2 separate regions of the Homo sapiens genome follow, and region 2 is linked to region 1. The links come from fine-mapping of genetic effects on gene expression. Tissue or cell type: whole blood. Region 1 holds a variant in brackets; the other region holds the start of a gene. All regions are shown on one strand. Distances are between the middles of the regions.

Region 1 (5,226 bases):
ATTTTCCCTTCTTGCTGAGGAGAAACCTGGGTTTCTCAGCTTTGGCACAGTCACAACACTTGGGGTCAGACCATTCATGGTGGTGGTGGTGGGGCCGTCCCGTGTATTGTAGGATGGTTAGCAGCATCTCTGGTCTCCATCCTCTAGGTGCCACTCTACCCTCCCAGCTATGGCTACCCCAGATGTCTCCAGATGGTTTCAAATGTCATGGAGCAAGGGAGTGGTACGTGAGCAAAACCACCCCAGTTGAGAGCCATTGGTCTACATTTGTGGAAATGTTTGAGGGTGAGAGTGTCGAGCTTGGGTCCCTGCTGTACCCTTTATGAGCAATGCGGTCTTGGAAAATTAATACTACTCCAGGGACCTCAGTTTTCTCATCTATAAAATGGAGATAAATGAGATACACTTTCATAGGAAGGTTATATGGGATTTACTGAGATAATAAGACAGTACATGGAAAATGCTGGGCATAGCATTTATTTATTTTTATGTTTTTTAAAGATGGAGTCTTACTCTGTTGCCCAGGCTGGAGTGCAGTGGCATGATCTCTGCTCACTGCAACCTCCACCTCCTGGGCTCAAGTGATTCTCCTGCCTCAGCCTCCCGAGTAGCTGGGATTACAGGTGCCCACCACCACACCTGGCTAATTTTTGTATTTTTAGTAGAGATGGGGTTTCACCATGTTGTCCAGGCTGGTCTCAAACTCCTGACCTAAGGTGATCCGCCTGCCTCGGCCTCCCAAGGTGCTGAGATCACAGGTGTGAGCCACCACGCTGGGCTGGGCATAGCATTGTAACACAGACAAAGCACAAAATACTTGGGCAATATCTTTTTACATTTGGCTTGTCTAGACTCCATCCTCCATCCCCTCATGCACTGGTGTGGTGCAGACCAGAATATCACCCACCTAGACTGCAGAGTGGATTTGGGTGGCATCTTGGCTTTCTGCACAAGACTTGCCTGTTCCCCACCACATCCCCCTGGTTCTCAGGGTCCAGGATTCCAGGAAGCAGGGATGTGGGCAGGCAGGGTAGGTGGCCCACCCAGTTCACTCCCACGCTGGGGACCTGCAGAGCTGGCTGTCCGAGACAGGGTGTTTGGACCAACATCTGGGTTTCTGGATTTCCATTTGAGCACAGCTGGACTACACAGGCTGAAGCTTTCTCTGCCGAGATATAGATATTTCCCTGGTGACGATCTTTCAAGCTGACATGAAGACATGGCCACCCACTGGAACGTGGTGTGTCTGCCGTGGCGCTCTTGTAATTTGTGAGGCAGGCTCCTGAGGAATGCAGTGCATAAGTGGGAAATGGTGGGAAGTTCTCGCATCCCCCCCTGGCCGAAAGTGCTACCTGCGCATGTTGGTGGACAGTCCTTTGAGCAGGAAGAAGACATGAAGCACATTCCTGTTAGCTACGACAGAGAGGGGCAGGGTACACACTGGACATTTCAAGCCCCTCCAGAGAAGCAAGTCTTACTGTGCTGGGAGTACTTGTGGAGTGCGGGCTGTGTTGCCCTGGGCTTTAATTATTTCAGGAACATTTAACCGCAGGGTTGGCAGGCCGGATCTTGATATGTGTTTCTCAGTTGGAAAGACTTTGGACCATAGGGAAATGTCTTCTCAATTCTTTTAATTTCATTAAGGTTGTCATTTTTCTTCTTGTGGCCTCTGGAATGTGACACAGAACTCAAGGGACAGGAAGGAGATGAGTTGGAGGCTGGGACAGGGGTCCCTGCCAGGGATGCTGGTGACTCACATGACGGTGTTGATGTGTGGAGTCCGGTGCCTGGTTTAGGGAATATTCGTGGGATATGTTCCAAAGGACTGACGGACCTATCAGGTACTGGAGGTGAATGGTCAAGTCTGATCTCAGGGCTGACAGTGTCAGGCAAGGACAGGAAGTTGACGTTGGACTCATTGGCTGAGGTTGCTTGGGACCCAGGGGGCAACGTGTGCCAGGACAGATGGGTCTGGGGCTAGGAAGGCAGGTTTGGGCTGGAGACTTGGGCTTGGGAGGCATCCCAGGTAGACAGTGGTTGAGGCTGTGGAAATGACCGTGATTGCCTGGGATGAGAGTGGAGACGGACAAGATGGGGGTTTTGCTCTAAGCCTGGGGAACCCACCTCCCATGTTCAAAGGATTCTCCTCCCTCAGCCTC[C/T]CAAGTAGCTGGGAATGCAGGTGCGTGCCACCATGCCTGACTAACTTTTGTATTTTTAGTGGAGATGAGGTTTGGCCAGGCTGCTTTCAAACTCCTGACCTCAAGTGATCGGCCCACCTTGGCTTCCCAAAGTGCTGGGATTACAGGCATGAGCCACCATGCCTGACCATTTTTAAATATTAATTTTTATGAAATATTTTCAAACACATTGGAAAAGTCAATCATGATTTGAAAACTTTATCAAAATCCAATCAAATGTCAGTTAACCACTTAATTGTGGATGAGTAAGGAGACTATTTTGACCAAAACGTGTTAGAACAATTACCACTTATAGAAATAATCTATGTTTTAATGTTTTAGTTGAATTAAACAATCTTTTATATTCTGTCCAGGCGCAGTGGCTCACACCTGTAATCCCAGCACTTTGGCAGGTCGAGGCTGGCGGATCACCTAAGGTCAGGAGTTCGAGACCAGCCTAGCCAACATGGCGGAACTGTCTCTACTAAAAATACAGAAATTAGCCAGGTGTGATGGCACACACCTGTAATCCCAGCTGCTTGGGAGGCTGAGGCAGGAGAATCATTTGAACCTGGGAGACAGAGGTTGCAGTCAGCCGAGATCACACCACTGCACTTCAGCCACCTGGGTGACAGAGCGAGACTCTGTTTCAAAAATAAATAAATAAATAAAATAGAATTCTGAATTTTATTTTTAATAATTATTTTGTAAAAAGAATGTCTTGTTTTTTGGAGTTGTTGAATTTATTTAATTGACAAAAATTATGTACAAGAGGGTACAACATGATGTGATTGAAGTATGTATACGTTACAAAATGGCTAAATCAAGCTAAATAACATCACCTCCCAGACTTATTTTTTTATGGTGAGAACACTTAAAAAATCTGCTCTCTTAGTGATTTCCAAGTGTATGTTATGTTGTTATTAACTATAGGTACCATGTTGTCCCATGGATATCCTGAACTTATTCTTCCTCTCTAAAAATGACATTCTGTGTCCTTTGGCATCTGCCCACTTCCCCACCCTGGCAACCATCATTCTACTCTGCTTCTGTGAATTCAACTTTTTTCTTTTCTTTTTCATCCTTTTTTTTTTGAGACAATCTCATTCTATTGCCCAGGCTGTAGTGCAGGGGTGTGATCTTTGCTCACTGCAGCCTTGACTTCCCAAGCTCAATCAATCCTCCCACCTCGGCCTCCTGAGTATCTGGGAGTACAGGCATGCACCACCACGCTCCACTAATTTTTGTATTTTTTTGTAGAAATGGGGTCTTGCTATGTTATGCAGGCTGGTCTCGAACTCCTGGACTCAAGCAATCTGCTGGCCTCAGCCTCCCAAAGTGCTGGGATTACAGGCATGAGCCACCATGCCTGGCCGAGTTCAACTTTTTTAGATTTCACATATAAGTGAGATCATGTGGTATTTGTCGTTTTGTGCCTGGCTTATTTCACTTAACATAATATCCTCCAGGCTCATCCATGTTGTCTCAAATGGCAGGATTTCCTTCTTTTTGAAGGCTGAATAGTATTCCATTGTGTATGTACACTACATTGTTGCTGGAAGTGTAATGGAGACCAGTTGGGGGAGGAGGGGGAAAAGATTCACTCTAAGTCTAGATGCTCCGGCACCCACCCAGGATGTGTGCAAGGAAGTGCAGGATGCTCCTGGTCTTGCAAACTGTGGTTTGTGGGACTCCAAAGCCCCTATCCTTCCACAGTGCTTTCTGTCTTGTTATCACATTTCCTTGGAGGAGAGCCCAGCCTTGGTGGAGAGCCCTGCTCTGGCTTTGTCCCTCGGCATGAGATGGCAAAGGATGGTGCTGCTGGGAGACCCTCACGTCTGCACACTGGGGGCTGCTTGCCTTCTCCATTCCTCCTTCAAGTATCTGAGCAGCTCCTGTGTGCCAGCTGCTGGTCTACAAGATGGATCGGTCCTTGGAGATCATGCTGTAGCAGAGGAGGCAGGCTGTAGCCCACACGCCACAACCAGCCCCCTGCCTGTTCACACAAATAAAGTTTTATTGGAATACAGCCACACCCATTTCAGTGCATATTGTCTGTGGCTGCTTTCCTGCTACAATAGAGAGTTGAATAGTTGGGACAGAGACCTATGGCCTGCAAAGCTGAACTATTTACCATCTGGCTCTCAAGAAAAGGGAAAAAAATGCTTATCTTTGTACCCCGACAGTCTTAGATTAAGAGTACTTTGTACCACCCTGACGTCCCAGGCAGCCATGAGTCCAGCCACCCCTGAAATGTACACAAGTCTGGGCTAGGGTTGCAGCAGGTGAGTCCCAATTTTGCAGATCTTTGGCATCAGGGGCACAACCCAGGATTTTGAGTGGGGTTTCCTCACCACTGTGGCTGGGCACTGGGCTAGTGTGCTTTCTGATTTTTGTATGGGGAAGAGAAAGGAGGGAGGAAATGGCAACTTGTTGCCCTGTTCTAACATTTTCCTAAGATGGGTCTCCAGGCAAGGGCTTGGGATCTCACCTTACACAGCTTACAAAACCCAGTGAGGCCGGCTGTCTTGGCGCTGCCACTCTGAGGGATGGAGCCCCCAAATTACTAGGAAGGGAGAAAAAAGAATGGTTTCTGCAAGCACAAGAAGTGGCGTTATTGAAATTAACATTTCCCCCAAGTTTTATAATGTCTAGGCATGCATATTTAAGTGTCTGTCTCAAAAGCTCTTGCTAATAACCAGATGGTGCATTTAATTTCCTTTTTTTGTTCTCTGAGCAACATGCAGCTTCCTACACAGCCCTCCTTGCAGGCAACTGCACTGAGGTGACAGTCCTCCTGACTGCCAGCACAGATCCCCAGGGCCTCTGAGAGCCCTGTATTCTGGGGGCAGCCTTTCCCCCTTCTATTTGGCCCCAGCTGGAAGGGGGCAGGTTACCCACAGTGCAGCACAGGGCTCCTGCCTTAGCTTAGCTTAGCTCCTGCCTAAGCACAGGGCTCCTGCCTTCTCTAGGGAGTCTGGCTCCCTCTGACCCTCTAGACCTCACCAGCTGAGGATCAGAGCCCCGGGGCAGGAGCCAGGGCCGGGGG
Region 2 (5,226 bases), 50 kb after region 1:
CCAGGCATGGTGGCTCATGCCTGTCATCCCAGAACTTTGGGAGGCCAAGGCGGGTGGATCATTTGAGGTCAGGAGTTCAAGACCAGCCTGGCTAACATGGTGAAATCCTGTCTCTACTAAGTACAAAAATTAGCCAGACAGTGGTGGCATGGGCCTGTAATCCCAGCTACTCAGGAGGCAGGAGAATCACTTGAGTCTGGGAGGCAGAGGTTGCAGTGAGCTGAGATTGCACCACTGCACTCTAGTCTGGGTGACAGAGTGAGACCCTGTCTCAAAAACAAACAAATACCTCACTGCATGGAGCCACTGAGATTTGGGGATTGTCGTTACTGCACCAGAACCCAAATCATCCTGACCGCTAGGGTGTCCTAACTAGGGTTTCTTCCCAAAAGCAAAGGCATTTTTAAAGTTCGTGACATTTAAACAAAAGAGCAAATACCAATATCTACCACTTCGTCAGGCTAACAAACCCAAACAAAGCCAACAGCCAGAAGTTAAAATAAACAGATCATTAGGTTGAAAATAGAACTGTCAAAACAGGCACAATTGACTTCATTTAGTGATTGCAAAGAACATCAGGCAAGACACACGTGTGGTCATCATAACATTTATCACATGCTTAATTGCACATGTTTGACTAAGAAAAACACAAAGTATTTAAGCTCATCTGTAGTTCAAAGTGCCTATCCGTGTATTTATCTATTCATCCTGATGTATTTATTGAGCAACTCTTTTGTGCCAGGCACTGTGCTGTGTTGCGGGAAGTCAGGGACCCCAAACGGAGGGACCAGCTGAAGCCATGACAGAAGAACGTGGATTATGAAGATTTTATGGACATTTATTAGTTCCCCAAATTAATACTTTTGTAATTTCTTATGCCTGCCTTCACTGCAATCTCTAAACATAAATTGTAAAGATTTCATGGACTAAACTTATCACTTCCCTAATCAATACCCTTGTGATTTCCTATGCCTGTCATTACTTTAATCTCTTAATCCTGTCAGCCGAGAAGGATGTATATCGTCTCAGGACCTGTAATAATTGCGTTAAGTACACAAATTATACAGCATGTGTGTTTGAGCAATATGAAATGTGGGCACCCTGAAAAAAGAACAGGATAACAGCAATTGTTCAGGGAATAAGAGAGATAACCTTAAACTCTGACCGCCGGTGAGCCAGGCAGAACAGAACCATATTTCTCTTCTTTCAAAAGCAAATGGGAGAAATATCGCTGAATTCCTTTTCTCAGCATGGAACGTCCCTGAGAAAGAGAATGCGCACCTAGGGGTAGGTCTCTAAACTGGCCCCCCGGGGCGTACCTGTCTCTTATGGTCGAGACTGCAGAGGTGAAATAAACTCCAGTCTCCCATAGCACTCCCAGGCTTATTAGGAAGAGAAAATTCCCACCTAATAAACTTTGGTCAGACCGGTTGATCTCAAAACCCTGTCTCCTGATAAGATGTTATCAATGACAATGGTGCCAAAACTTCATTAGCAATTTTAATTTCACCTTTTGCATCTCCTTGAAATGTCTGCCTTTGCACACTCTCCCTGAAAGAGGAGGGCAAGGGAGCCAGGATAGAAAGTGAGGTGGAGAAGTGTAGAGCTCTGGACGGACAAGCAGGAGATACGCAGCACAAGGAAGCACACTAGGTAACACACCAAGCAGGGGAACCTGTCTTTCACTACATAGGCAAGATGCTACGGGAAATGGGCTCTGGGTTTACACAGATTATGACTCAGTTCTCTACTGTTGTGAAGCTGTGTTTGGATAAATCCCTCAACTTTTCTGAGTCTTATTTTTTCATTTGTAAAATGTAGATAGAAGACCTACTTTCCCACATTGCTCTCAGGTTTAAAGTACGTCAATTAGGATACAGCAAAGTCTGTTTGATACTGAAAACTTTCCAGCAACAATGAACCTTAGAACAAGTCATCTCTCATCTTTGCTCTTGCCTGTAACTACTAAGCGACTACTCCATCTTCTGTTCTTAGGGATTTTAAATTGTTGACGTTTTTGATTTAGTCAGGAATGCGTTGTATGGGGATATCAAACCTGCATGCTCTCCAAGCATTGACTGTAGTCTGATCTTAGTAGGTCGTGCACATATAATTTTACTATTTCTCAATTTATTTCGGTGCTGATGTAATTAGTAAAATACGATTTAAGAGTGTTATGATACTTTTTAAAAATCGTGATGTCTTTTCTTCATCAAAGAGATACTTAAAAGCACATAATCATCTTGTGGAGGCAAGTTGACAAAATCCTTTTTGAGATTCTAAAAGGAATCTTTGTACTTAAAATGTTTAAGGACCACTGATGTATTTTGGCTTCATGTATCAATTAGATTTAGATTTTATTGTTTTAGAGATGGGGGTCTCCCTTTGTCGCCCAGGCTGGAGTTGAGCTCACCTCAGCCTCAAACGCCTGGGCTCAAACTATCCTTCTGCCTCAGCCTCCTGAGTTGCTGGGACTACCATGGTGTGCCACCAATTTTTATAGAGATGTGATCTCGCTGTGTTTCCCAGGCTGGTCTTGAACTCCTGGTTTCAAGTGATCCTCTTGCCTTGGCTTCCCAAAGTGTTGGGATTACAGGCGTGAGCCACCGCTCCTGGCCCCGATTTATTAATAGATCTTATAAGGACATTTTAGGCCTCACGCATCAGTTTCTTAGGACAAGCTTTTCTCTGCACTGCATAATAAATCAGACGGCAGTGCAACAAAAAAACGGTGATGATTTCCCGAAGAACAAACCAAGTTCAGAAGCCTCCCTAATTGTCAGAACAGCAGGTAGCCTGGGCGGAGCTCTGAGGCTATCCTTAAACAGGCGCACTGAGACGCAAGGCGCTGGAAACAAAAGAGCTCCTCCTTGCGCCCTTCCGCCGCCCCACTTAGTCCTGCTCCGCCCCGGACACCCCGCGGCCCCGCCCCTGTGCGCGCTGGTTGGTCCTCGCAGGCATGATGAAACTTCCCGCACGCGTTACAGGAGCCAGGTCGGTATAAGCGCCAGCGGCCTCGCCGCCCGTCAAGCTGTCCACATCCCTGGCCTCAGCCCGCCACATCACCCTGACCTGCTTACGCCCAGGTGAGCCGGGTCCTGCGCCCCGTGCCCTGCGCCCCGCGCCAGCATCCTCCTCGCGTGCCCTGGGGCTGCTCCGGAAGGAAGGGGTGGAGGATGCGGTCTTCAGCCTGGCACCCGGCAGACGCGGTTCGCGGGCGCCTGCTGATGCTGCGGCTCCTGCGGTAGGGAGGGCGGGGCGGACGCCTAGCGATTGTTACGCACCTGACAGCTAGCGGAAGGACCTTTCTGTCCTGGTTCCCTGAAGCATCGAGAGGGAACCGCGGCCGGCAGGCCGGACCGCTCCGGAGAGGAGGCAGCGGCAGTTTGAGCCCCTGTAAATGTTATATGTGTACTTTTTTTTACTATGTGGCGTCGAAGCCTGTGGACATTTTCGCGGTCCGGGTCCCTGCGGCGGACGGGTCGGATCGTGCTCGTGGCCAGGGCGCAGTCAGGTGTCGCGTGGTCCTGATCTAGGAAGAGACTGCGGCCTTATCACCGTCTCGGTGTCTGCTTTCACCTTCAACTGCCCCCCTCCTCACCTGGACCGCTCACCCTCCTCCTCCCCTCTCACCCCGCCATCCCCACCAGTCCCCACCTGTCTCTGTAGACTGCAAGACTCATCAAGTGACTTGCTGAGCAAACCCTGCCGAGAAGAGGTCTGTTTAGGGACACAGGCGACCAAGTACAGAAAAAGGCAAAAGAACTAGCATGCCTTTTTCAATGGCTGTCATTTTGCAGGGCTGGCTTCAGATGATTGTTATAGCTTTAAATAAAAAGGACAGTTTTCATCTCGGCCCGTGGCCTACATTATTTCTTTACTGTCCATTGCCCTGGGCGCTTGACTAATAATTTAACAGCAGTTTTTTTTTTTAAATTTTAAATCATGATTCATAGCATTGCTGTAAGAGTAATTAGAGGTAAAGTAGGGCTTGAACCTGTCTGTAGTTGGTTACTTACTGAGATCTTAATATAAAAGTAAAGGGAGAGGGTGAAGTTGTAAGTAGCACTAAGTGGAATAGAAATTAAATGCACTGAAACTGCCATGTCCAGTTCGGTAGGCGCTAGCCACCTGTAACTGTTGAGCACTTGAAGTGCTGGCTAGTCCTAACTGAGATGTATTGTGTTAAATACACTGGATTTTGTCGTTGGAGTAGGAAGAACAGTGTAAAATATCTGCTCGATAATATTTTATATTGATTACATATATGTTAAAATGTTACTATTTGGGACATACTGAGTTAAGTTTATTTAAAATTAATTTCACCTTTTTCTTTTAATGGGGCTACTAGTATATTTAAAATTACATATGTGGCTTACATATATATTTATTGGACAGCACTGTTCTAGAAGTTTAGGAAGAAATAAGAAAAATATTGAGAACAGGTAGCGGCAGTAGGAACTTTGCCCTCCTATAAGACTGATTCCAATAAAAATAATAGGTTATAGTTTTAATTGGCTTTTTCCTACTAGAAAAAATAAGTGTACTTTACATGCCTCTTTGTTCTCCCTTTTTCCCCTCCAGTTTAGTGGTTAGAATGTATTTATTATAGCAGGATTAATACAGGGATTCACTAAGCAGCGTTAAGAAGACTTAGGTAACTGATTCCCTGATGACCATACTTGATTTTCAAAGCACTTTCCTAACCCGTTTTAAATTGATATAGAGTCAAAGGCAGATGGCTTATTAGTAGTCATCTCATTTAAATCTTATGGAATTTTTCCAGTAAATCTCAAATAATTTGTTATAGGCTATTTGGGCTATTTGGTCAAGTGCATGGAAGAGACAGCATAGGACATGTGGTACTTCATTTCCAAATTGCTTGAGATGATTTTCATTCTAACCATATATTATTTGGTTCTGGTTTTCCGGAAAAGCCAGCTAAACCTTTGGTTCTTTTAGATATAAATGAAATATCATCAAAGAATAGCTCAAAGTGACTTATGCAACTTGAATGTATATTTTTTCCTTAGGGTGTTTATCCCAAACTATTTGGGCATTTGCTGCAATTCGCAGTTTTTTTAAAAAAAACACCAAAATAGTTATTTTTCAAGTTAGAGATGTTTTAATTAAAACATCTTGTTTTTGGTGTATCCATTGACATTCTCAAAACGGAATGTATCTGGACCTCTGTGTACAATCTTCGTAGCACTCAGACACTGAACA

What was found. PIP is the estimated chance that this variant, and not a neighbour inherited with it, causes the effect.
Region 2: it holds the start of ASNS, and the variant in region 1 is the best candidate, but not a certain one, in a credible set for the expression of ASNS in whole blood (TOPMed, PIP 0.66).

What each region holds. Positions count from the first base shown.
Region 1 is chr7:97,920,409-97,925,634 of GRCh38, reverse strand. The region is part of intron 3 of CZ1P-ASNS (CZ1P-ASNS readthrough); the gene reads left to right. It also overlaps a transcript of ASNS not described here. Among named protein-coding and RNA genes, the nearest start is that of MIR5692A1, 41 kb to the left of the region's middle. The variant C/T (reference allele first, on the strand shown) is at 2,160.
Region 2 is chr7:97,870,211-97,875,436 of GRCh38, reverse strand. ASNS (asparagine synthetase (glutamine-hydrolyzing)) reads left to right here and starts at 3,029. Exons shown (of 13, transcript NM_001673.5): 1 at 3,029-3,086. All of the region lies in intron 7 of CZ1P-ASNS (CZ1P-ASNS readthrough), which reads left to right. RefSeq lists silencers at 2,798-2,887, 3,198-3,307 and an enhancer at 2,433-3,148.